2 linked regions of the Homo sapiens genome follow. Each later gene encodes a partner of the first gene's protein in a complex. Each region holds a gene or a part of one and is shown in the gene's direction. Other genes may lie near its edges. The genes, in order: CCNC and MED4.

Region 1 (7,311 bases):
AATTTGAAACGTTTTGAGGGCCAACATGACATTCAAAGGAATGCTCATTGGAACATTTTGCATTTCAGATTTTTAGATTAGGGATGCTCAACCAGTGTAATGCAAAATATTCCTAAATCAGAAAAATCTCTGATCCTAAGCATGTCAGATAAGGGGTAATCAGCCTGTACATTTAGGAGTGTAAGTACTTCACACCTCAAGTAGTTAGAAGGTGAACAGATTGTAAACAGGAGCAAGGAAATCCTGTTTTGAATAGAGTTCAGATACCCTTAGATTCATTGGGTTAACATGTACCTGCTTTTCTTTCTTTAGGAATTTGGAGTAGTTTCAAATACAAGATTGATTGCTGCTGCTACTTCTGTATGTAAGTGCAAAAAGTATATCTGCTTTAAGGATGTAATTCTAAAGAAAGCTCCAGAGTACATAGATTTTTTTTTTTTTAGTTTATGAGACATATGAGATTGGTTGGCTTTATTAAATTTCCTGAGGATAACTTTATATCTAGTGTATCTGGCAAAAAAATCAAGCTAAAAGGTTTTTTTTTAAAAAGATATAAAGATATTACTTTTAATGTTAAAATGGATAGTAATTATCAATCCAAAAACATCAACTCAGTGGCTTTTAATCTTGTAAGAGTAAAGAAAAAATTCTGTTTCCGAATTTTATTGTATTTTATTGTTTTCTAATGACTATTATGTCATTCTTATGGGTAGATATTAATATCTATGTGCAAACCCGTTCCTGTGTTGTTGGGTTGTTATGAGGACCAAATGAGTTAATATAAGCTTTTAGAACAGTGCCTTGCTTAGTATGTTACTTTGCTGAGGCTGCCATAACAAAATGCCACAGAACAGGTGGCTTAAACAACAGAAGCGTATTTTCTCACAGTTTTAGAGCATGGAAATCCAAGATCAAGGTGTCTGGCTATTCTTACATGGACCTTTCTGTGAGCACACACACTCCTGGTTTGCTGTCTTCTTCATGTGAGGACAATAGTCTTACAGAATTAGGCCCCACTCTTATGTCCTCATTTAATCTTTTTTTTTTCTTTCTTTTTTTTTTTTTTTTTTTTGAGACAGAGTCTCGCTCTGTCGCCCAGGCTGGAGTGCTCACTTCAACTTCCGCCTCCTGGGTTCAAGTGATTCTCCTGCCTCAGCCTCCTGAGTACCTGGGACTACAGGCATGTGCCACCATGCCCAGCTCATTTTTGTATTTTTTAGTAGAGACGGGGTTTCACCATGTTGGCCAGACTAGTCTCAAACTCCTGATCTCGTGATCCGCTAGCCTCGGCCTCCCAACGTGCTGGGATTATAGGTGTGAGCCACCATGTCTGGCCTGTCCTCATTTAATCTTATCCCTTTAAAGACCCTCTCTCCAAATACAGTCACATTCTGAGGTACTAGGAGTTAGGGCTTCAACATACGAATTTTGGAGGGGGACATATATTGGTCCACAATACTTGGTAAACTTTAGGGGCTATCATCATCATCATCATCTTCAATGACAACAACATCATTATCACTGGAAAACACTGTGCCAATGCAGTGGCATTGGTACCAAGGTAAAATACAAGGAATTTAAGGACAAAAAAAGAAGACAGAAACATAAAAATATTAATACAGAAGGAAATAAATAGTATAAGAGAGTTACAGAGAATGCTGTGAATGTTTTGGGTGGGAAAAGATTGTTTCATGAATCCAGAAAGGATTAAGTAGAACTTGGTGAAGGAAGTTGAACTGGGGAAATGCAAGAGATAGACAGTCTAAGAACACTGAATAGTTTAGTCAAATAGGGAAAGCTCATGAGTTAGATTAACTGAATGGTGAGTAAGGAAATAGTGGGGAAAACTCCTTACCTAATTTCAGCTAATAGAGGGCCTTCGATGCTAAATGAAGGAATCTGCACTTTGTTCTATTGACAGTAATGAAAGTTAGTTATTTGAGATGGAGTCTCGCTCAGCCGCCCAGGCTGGAGTGCAGTGGCACGATCTTGGCTCACTGCAACCTCTGCCTCCCAGGTTCAAGCGATTCTCCTGCCTCATCCTCCCTGGTAGCTGGGATTACAGGTGTGTGCCACCACGCCGGGCTAATTTTTGTATTTTTAGTAGAGATGGGGTTTCAACATTTTGGCCAGGCTGGTTTTAAACTCCTCACCTCAGGCCTCCCAAAGTGCTGAGATTACAGGCGTGAGCCACTGCACCTGGCCAGTTTTATTTATTTTTACACATGAGGGTAATGCCAGCATTGTGCATTAGGAAGGTAAATCTGACCCACCTCAGCCTCCCAAAGTGCTGAGATTACAGGCGTGAGCCACTGTGCCTGGCCAGTTTTATTTATTTTCACACATGAGGGTAATGCTAGCATTGTGCATTAGGAAGGTAAATCTGACAGAATTATGTAAGATGAATTGGAGGAGAGGGCAGGTAGAATTAGACAAATTTTGAAGTTATTTACATCCCACAACATGGATGAACCTTGAGGACATTATGGTAAGTGAAATAAGCCAGTAACAAAGACAAATATTGTGTGATTACACTTACATGGAATACTTAGTCAAATTAATAAAGATAGAAAGTAGAATGGTAGGGCTGGAGGAAGGGTGGTATAGGGAGTGATTAATGGATACAGAGTTTCAGTTTTGCAAAAATTTTGTATATCTTAACACAATTTAAAAACAAAAACCTTCTGAAATACAGTAAAACTGCAAACTGTATTGAGTGCTGTCACTTACCACAGGGTGCTATGAGAAATAAAACCTAACAAGTTTAAAGTGGAAAAAATAATTTTTAAGTTGCTGAAGTCATCCCAGTGAACACTAATGAAGGCTTAAACGAATATTGGCAGCCAGCAAGAAGAACAAACAAGCCAGATTTGAGCGATAGAGTCAGCAGTTCTTATAAAAAGAAGGGATTTAAGAAGAGTCAGAAATGTGTTTTGAGGTTTTTTTGCCTGGGGGTTGGGGAGCTGAAGCTGGTACTGAAAAAGAGAATAAGTGAGTTCTGAAAAGAATTAAATTTAATCTTTGACATTCTAAGTATAAATATGTTAGTAGAACATCCTCTTAAAAATGTGAGGCCAGCAGTAGAAATTTGGAATTTGATAACATTTAAGAGTTGCACAGGCCAGGTATGGTGGTTCCTGCTTATAATCCGAACACTTTGGGAGGCTGGAGCAGGAGGATTGCTTTAGAACAGGAGTTCAAGACCAGCCTGGACAACATAGCAAGATTCCAGCTCTGCAAAAAATTAAAGAAAAACTAACTGGGCATGGTGGCACACACCTGTAGTCCTAGCTACTCAACTAGGCTGAAGTGGGAGGGTTGCCTAAGCCCAGGAGTTCAAGGCTGCAGTAAACTGTGATTATGCCACTGCACTCCAGCCTGGGCAATGGAGTAAGACTCTGTCCCTAAAAATTAAAAAAAAAAAGAGTTCCACAATGTCTTATGCTGCATAGAAAAAGATGTGAACCAAAGAAAAAAACATCTTTGAGAGAGAACATAGTGTCATTAACAATGTGGGGGTGGAGGTAGAAGCCAGATTGCAAGGAATTAAGAAGCAAGTAGGTGCTGAGAAAGGAATAGTCTAACTATATTAAAAATATATGAAACAACTTCAGTGAAGGGAATTGGGGGAAAGGTGTTGACATAAGTAGCTTTGGAAATGATTAAGAGTGTAAGAGTAAAGGCAAAAGGAACTACACATAAGCACTGTACTCTAGTTGATAAAGTTATTACCCATGGGTGTACAAGTTAACAATTCTGATAATGCTATACATGTATATGGGAATTAAACAATTACGTAAATCAATAGCAAATGTTTGAGAGCCGGGTTTCTCATTGTTGGAGCGGGAATTTACAGATAAGCAAAGGGCTGGAAACAGCATGAACTCGTGTACCTTAATACAATATAGATGGTTAGTTACATATAGAAATATTTATAGATAAGTGTATATACATGGGTTAGTGTGTGTATTTCTTGGCTTTCTCAGCTGAAAGGGTCTATAAGCAATGACATCCCAGTAGCAATGAGCTCACCTAGTACCCATATCTTGGTTTCTAATATCATTCTCCAATAAAAGGTACCAGGGCTCCTTGGAGAAATGGTTGATTCTAGGACTGGGGCAAGAAATACACAAGATGGACCTGGACCATCTCTTAATGCCAGTAATAAAGAAGTATTCAAAACAAACAAGAAAAACAAAAACGTCTATTGATGAGGATATGTCAAAAGGATATAGGAGCTAACTAAGAGAGCTCCCACTGACCAAAGCTGAAAGAATTTGAGCATCAAAATTTTAAAAATAGCATTGGATAATAACTCAAAGTATAAACTAAATATCCATGAGTCCATACTGATATAAATAAATGAGGGAGAAGAGACATGTCTTCCATGCTGAAGAATTCCAAATAATATATGTAACTATTCTGCCCTCAAGTAGAGGGAGCATAACTCCCCACTCCTAAGGTGCTGGCTATACATGTTAACTTCCTGCTAGTGTGTACATATGGAAAGGGAGGAAAAAGGTAACTTTACAGTGGGGAAACCTGAGAAATACTGCCTTAGCCAGGCGATCAAGGTCAGTAGCAACAGTGATAAATCACATTAATATCATGTATCATTGATGTGATATGATGAAGATGGTACTTTATCTCGGTGGTCTTCCTGTCAAAAACCCATTTTCTCTAGTCTAATGAGAAAAACATCAGACAAATTCCAGTAGAGGGGCATTTGACAAAATACTTGACTGGTACTCCTAAAAACTGTCAAAGTCATCAAAAACAAGGAAAGGCTAGAAAACTGTCACAGCCAAACAGTCTAAGGAAACATGACAAATAAATATAATGTGGTATCCTAGATAAGACCCTAGGATAGAAAAAGGACATTGGTACAAACTAAGGAGATCTGAAAAAAGTACAGTTTAGTTAATAATAACATTTCAATATTGGGTCAGTAATTGTAACAAATGCGCCATACTAATGTAAGATGTTAATAGTAGGGGAAGCTGGGTGAAGGCATGTCTTAGTCCACTTGGGCTAATATAAGAAAGTACCATAGACTGGGTGGCTTTCACAACAGACATTTATTTCTCACAGTTCTGGAGGCTGGGAAGTCAATAACGGTGGGTATAAGAGAACTGTGCATGATCTCAGTGTTTGAGTCTACAAAAATAAAAGGCAGAGGAATATAATTAGGTAGAGTTTGTTTTGCTTTTTTCAAGGGAAATTTGAGCATATTAGTATGTGATGGAAGATTTACTGAAGGAGGAAGGTTAAAGATGAAAAAAATAGCAGGAGTTATCAATTGAATAGATGATAATAAGTGTATAAGTGGTAAGACAAACAATAGAGAGGAGGGATGTATTTTTCTCCAAGTTGGAGGAAAAGGATTAAAAGACAGAAAAAAATGCAGAGCAGTTTTAGCATGGAGTAACAGACATGTGACAGTATCAGGTAAATATATTCTCAATAGAGGTGTTAGGTGTCAAGGTCCAGGGGATGGGGATGTAGATTTGTTTTATATACAGAGATAATTTTACTTTGTTGATTGTCTACCATTATATAAGAACCTGTTGTGCTGGTATACTTTACATCACAAGGATTTGTAAAACTCAGAAACCTTAATAGGTACGTCTTAAATTTAAATAAAGGAGAGAAGAAAGGAAAGATTATAAATTTACTAATGTCAAGTTTAAATTATTCTAGGTTTCAAATCCTGGCAGATATTACACATCTAAATTAGCTGTAGGGCACTGAATTTGCAAAACAAATCTTTTTGAAAACATAGTGCATAGAAGAAATGGAATTTCTTTCTTTTTTTTTTTTTGAGATGGAGTCTCACTGTCACCCAGACTGGAGTGCAGTGGTGTGTTCTCAGCTCACTGCACCCTCTGCCTCCCGGGTTCAAGGGATTCTCCTGCCTCGGCCTCCCGAGTAGCCGGGACTACAGGTGCATGCCACTACACTCGCCTAATTTTTGTATTTTTAGTAGAGATGGGGTTTCACCATGTTGTCCAGGAGGTCTCGAACTCCTGACCTCAGGTGATCCACCCACCTTGGCCTCCCAAAGTGCTGGGATTACAGGCATGAGCCACTGTGCCTGGCCAGAAATGGAATTTCTTTTAATTTCAGTGAAATCACTTGGGCTTTGTACAAATGGAAGCTGACACTAAACATTTTTTAGGACCTGTCAGTAGTTACTTGGTTGAATTAAATGTGTCATAATGGCTTGAATACAGTTTCTCAAATAGTACTTATGTGTATATGCTCACACCATTTTAAGGAGATGGGGGATTGATGGTTAACATTTTTTTTTCATTTGTACTTTATTTAGTGACTAACCAATAAAGTAATAGATAATAGAGTACTAACTTTATGTGTTACTACTACTACTTTATGAGTAACTCGAGACCTTTGCATATATATTAATGCTTTTATTAAAATATATATTTTGATAAATACCTGGTCATTGTAAAAAGTTTAGAAAGTGCAGATTAGTAAAAAGTTCTTAAATCTCACAAATAACCACTGTTAACATTTTTTTGGTGTACTATCCTCCCAATATTTTATATGTATATTTTTTACCAATTGTATATATTGTAAACACATATGTAACCCCTGTGTTCCTTCTAAGCTCAGTCACTGGAAAACAGAAGAATACCATTCTGTAGCTGAAAAGATTTTAGAAATGATAAAAGCCAGTGATTTTTTTTTCCTGATCTTTTTCTTTTTTAAACATCAGAATCCTTTCTTAAGGTAGTAAATATAAAATTGAAGCTGTGTAGAGTGTCCTGCCCCCCAGTCTTTCCCCTTCCCTGAAAGTAAATAAAAATCTGCGTCCGTAAGTGTTGCCAAGAATTCCTACTGAAAATAATTTTGCTCTACCCTCTAATATTCTGCTCTGTTAAAGGAATTTTGAGTTAATTTATTTCCCATTTTCTCAGTTTAAATTTTTTTTTTATTTTCTGCAGTAAAAACTAGATTTTCATATGCCTTTCCAAAGGAATTTCCTTATAGGATGAATCATGTAAGTATATGATATAAAATGGAACAATTATCAAAGCTATATATAAACTAGCTCTATTTTATATTAGACTAAATTTAATAGTTTCCTAGAAATGGCAGTTTCAAATATTACATAAATACAGACATTATTCTAAATTAAAGCTAAATAGCTTTTACCATTTAAAAAAAATACTTCATAGTGGCGATTATCAACCCTGGCTGCTCATTAAATCACCTTGGGAACTTGTAAATAATACTGATGTTGGATCCTTTCCAGAACAACAAAATCAGAATTTTCAGCCTTGGGGCTCC
Region 2 (3,192 bases), on another chromosome or scaffold:
ACCAACCAGGCATCACAGCAGTAAAGGAGACAAAACCACCTGATCCAGGAAGTGAAACTTGTTTGCTAGTGGAGTCCCACCTGTGCCCTCTACTGACAAAACTTAATTGTGGCAGCTGGCAAAGGAGAAATGGTTTCAGGGGCCAGAGAGAAGGGTAGATTTGAGGCTAACTGGCATACCTTTCTAGTTAATACCATAACTCTTTCTTTTGACCCTTTAAAAATCTGCCTTCTTTATTTGAGTCTTGAACTATACCTGTTTATGTGCTCTGTCCCTTTGCTTCAGAAATACAGACTTTAAATGTAACTTGGGCCCTTTTTTAAGGTATTTCATATGCATACATTGCTAATCAACCTCTCTTTGATGAGAGTCACTTACAATAGCAGTTCCTCTATCAAGAAATCATTCAAATCTATTATAATACTAAAGTACCTATTACTTGTTTATAATATGTAGAATAATCTACATAACCTAGTATACATAAGTATGTATTATATATGCATATAATAGATACATAGATACAGGAAAAATTTGTAATTACAAATGTCTTACAAAAGAAAAATTATGTCAACTGACTAAATAGTTTCTTACAGAGTAGTATGATTTTTTTAAAAAAGTCCCCAGTTGCTAAAATATCAACTTTTCCTTGATAAATTTGATTTTTATTAATTTGGCTAAATGTGTATTTTTTTCCTAGTCTTAAAAAAATTGGCACAATAGCTTATGCCTGTAATCCCAACACTTTGGGAGGCTGAGGTAGCAGGATAGCTTGAGCCCAGGAGTTGGAGACCAGCCTGGTTAACATAGTGAGACCTCATCTCTACAAAAACTTTAAAAAGTACTCAAGCATGGTGGCACATACCTGTAACCCAGTTACTCAGGAGGCTGAGGCAGGAGGATTGCTTGAGCCTAGGTCAGGGCTTCAGTGATGTATTCGTGCCACTGCACTCAAGCCTGGGTGACAGAATGAGACCCTGTGTCAAAAAAAGAAGAGAAAAAAGTAAAATTAAAAAAAATACTTCAAATTGTTGCATAAAGGGAAAAGTAAGAACTAGATTAATTACAGATAGAGCTGTTCTTATCTATGCTTCTTTTTTTCTCCAGATGTCCTTGCTCCACAGTATCCATGGCAGTCAAATGACATGTCGATGAATATGTTACCACCAAATCATAGTAGTGACTTTTTGTTGGAACCTCCTGGGCATAATAAAGAAAATGAAGATGATGTAGAGATTATGTCAACGGACTCCTCAAGCAGTAGTAGTGAGTCTGATTGAAAAACCTTAAAAGACAATATACAGAATTGAATACTGTAGAATTCTGTTTCTTTAACAGTAGCAGGGAAATGTAAACTACAGGTGACAAAAAATACCCAGGTAAACACTGGCTTTGGTAGAATTGTGCAGTCATTAAAAGTCAAAATTTTTTGACTTTCTTTTTAAAGCCAAAGACCATAGTTTTAGTTTTAAGCCACTAGGTAGATATTTAGGGGAATAGTCAAAATTTACTGTTGAAAAAGCAGTTGCTATGTGCTTTCTTACCCTGTTCTGTTCCAGTTTTGCTGGATTTGTACATAGCCATTCTAGAAATAGAGTTGAGGGAAATTATCCATATACATATCACTAATAGGCTTCTTGGAATTATTTAGAAAAGCATTTTTAAACTGGCAGTGGATGACTGAATAGGCATCATATTTCTTTTTGTGTGTCATTTAAAAGTAACAAAAACTGCCATTTGACAGTAAAGGCTCTTGGCTTCTGTTGGAGGCATGGGAAATTGTCTCAATTTGTACAGTTTGTAATTGTAATTTTTGTAAATAAATTTGTTTGTACATTGTATGCTTTTTTTTTAGTTTAAATATACTGTCAGTGTAGGTAGGAAATTATTTCTGTAAATCCAGTTGCATTTTATAATACTTGAGTGACTAACTGAATTGAAACCTATTACAATTAATAGGGTTCTCAAAGGCCTATTCCTATTAGAAGAAATAATTTTTTTTAATAATTGAAAAAATTTACCACAGCCTTGTCTGATTTTAAGAATAGATTGTGTGAAGATTTAGAATGGAAAGCAACCATTTCTTCCCTTCACCTTCCTCTTCTTACAGTTCCCCAGGAGTCATTTTTAACCACTTTTAATTTCTGTTGGTAACCTCTGTGTTTAGGTAATATGCTTATACAACTATTTCTTGATGTATCAGTTTTAGACAATGTATCTTCTGATTTCAAAGGTAATACAACATTTAATGTGAAACATTTAGTGAATACAGTAAAGGAGAAAATAAAATTGTTAGCATTCTACCCAGAGATAATATCAATTCATATTGTAGTGTAGATTTTTTTAAAGTTCACATACACTTTTTTGTAAAATGAGAATAATGTTTATTTCCTGAGATACTGCTGTATTTTTTAATTGCTAATCTGTATTCTTCAAATGAACTGAGAATTCCATTTTTCCATCATTTTTTCCTTTTGATTATTTTCGATCTCTAGAAAAATTGGAAAATAGGAGATTAATCTTATATTTTCACCATCTAGAATTAAGGACATACAATGTTTGAATGTCTTTCCCTCCAGGGTTATTTTTAGGAATGGACTAACACAATATCTAATTTTAACCTTGCCTTGTCCGTATACTAGGAATATTGATCCATGTGTATACATTCTTGAAAGATTTACTTTAATGGCTAAAATTTTATTGTGGTATGTGCCATAATGTAACTGCCTGTTTTTATCACCAAATCTTTAGGGTAGATTCAAAAGGATTGTGTTTTTCAAATTCTTTAATACTGTATTAGTTTTCAGTTGCTGCCGTAACAAATTACCACAAACTTGGCTCAAAACAACACAAATTTATCTTAGTTTTGTACATCACAAATGTGAAGTGGGTCTCACCTAAAATCAAGGTGTGAGCAGGGCTGCATTCCTTCCTGGAGGCCATAGGGGAGAATCTGTCCCCTGTGTCTTCCAGGTTTTAGAGGCCGCCCTTGGTCCTGCTCCAGGCCCCTGGTTGGTGAGTGTTTCTCATTCTGCATTACTGTGATGCTCTTCTGCCTACCTGTCCCATATTTAAAGGATCCTGTGATCATTCTGAGCCCACTGGATAACCCAGAATAATCTTCTTATTTAAAGTGAGATGATTAGCAACCTTTATTCTGTTTGCAACCTTAATTCTTCCTTGCCATGTAACAAA

The links.
Region 2: CCNC (region 1) and MED4 share a complex: the UniProt entries of both Homo sapiens proteins name them as parts of the mediator complex.

Annotation. Positions count from the first base shown.
Region 1 is NC_000006.12:99,551,550-99,558,860, reverse strand, and holds part of CCNC (cyclin-C), read left to right. Parts: intron 1-312; coding exon 313-364; intron 365-5,059; exon of another isoform or gene 5,060-6,965; coding exon 6,966-7,021; exon of another isoform or gene 7,022-7,311. UniProt on the Homo sapiens protein: Component of the Mediator complex, a coactivator involved in regulated gene transcription of nearly all RNA polymerase II-dependent genes.
Region 2 is NC_000013.11:48,075,224-48,078,415, reverse strand, and holds the end of MED4 (mediator of RNA polymerase II transcription subunit 4), read left to right. Parts: intron 1-862; exon of another isoform or gene 863-974; intron 975-1,064; exon of another isoform or gene 1,065-1,104; coding exon 1,105-1,277; 3' UTR 1,278-2,692; downstream 2,693-3,192. UniProt on the Homo sapiens protein: Component of the Mediator complex, a coactivator involved in the regulated transcription of nearly all RNA polymerase II-dependent genes.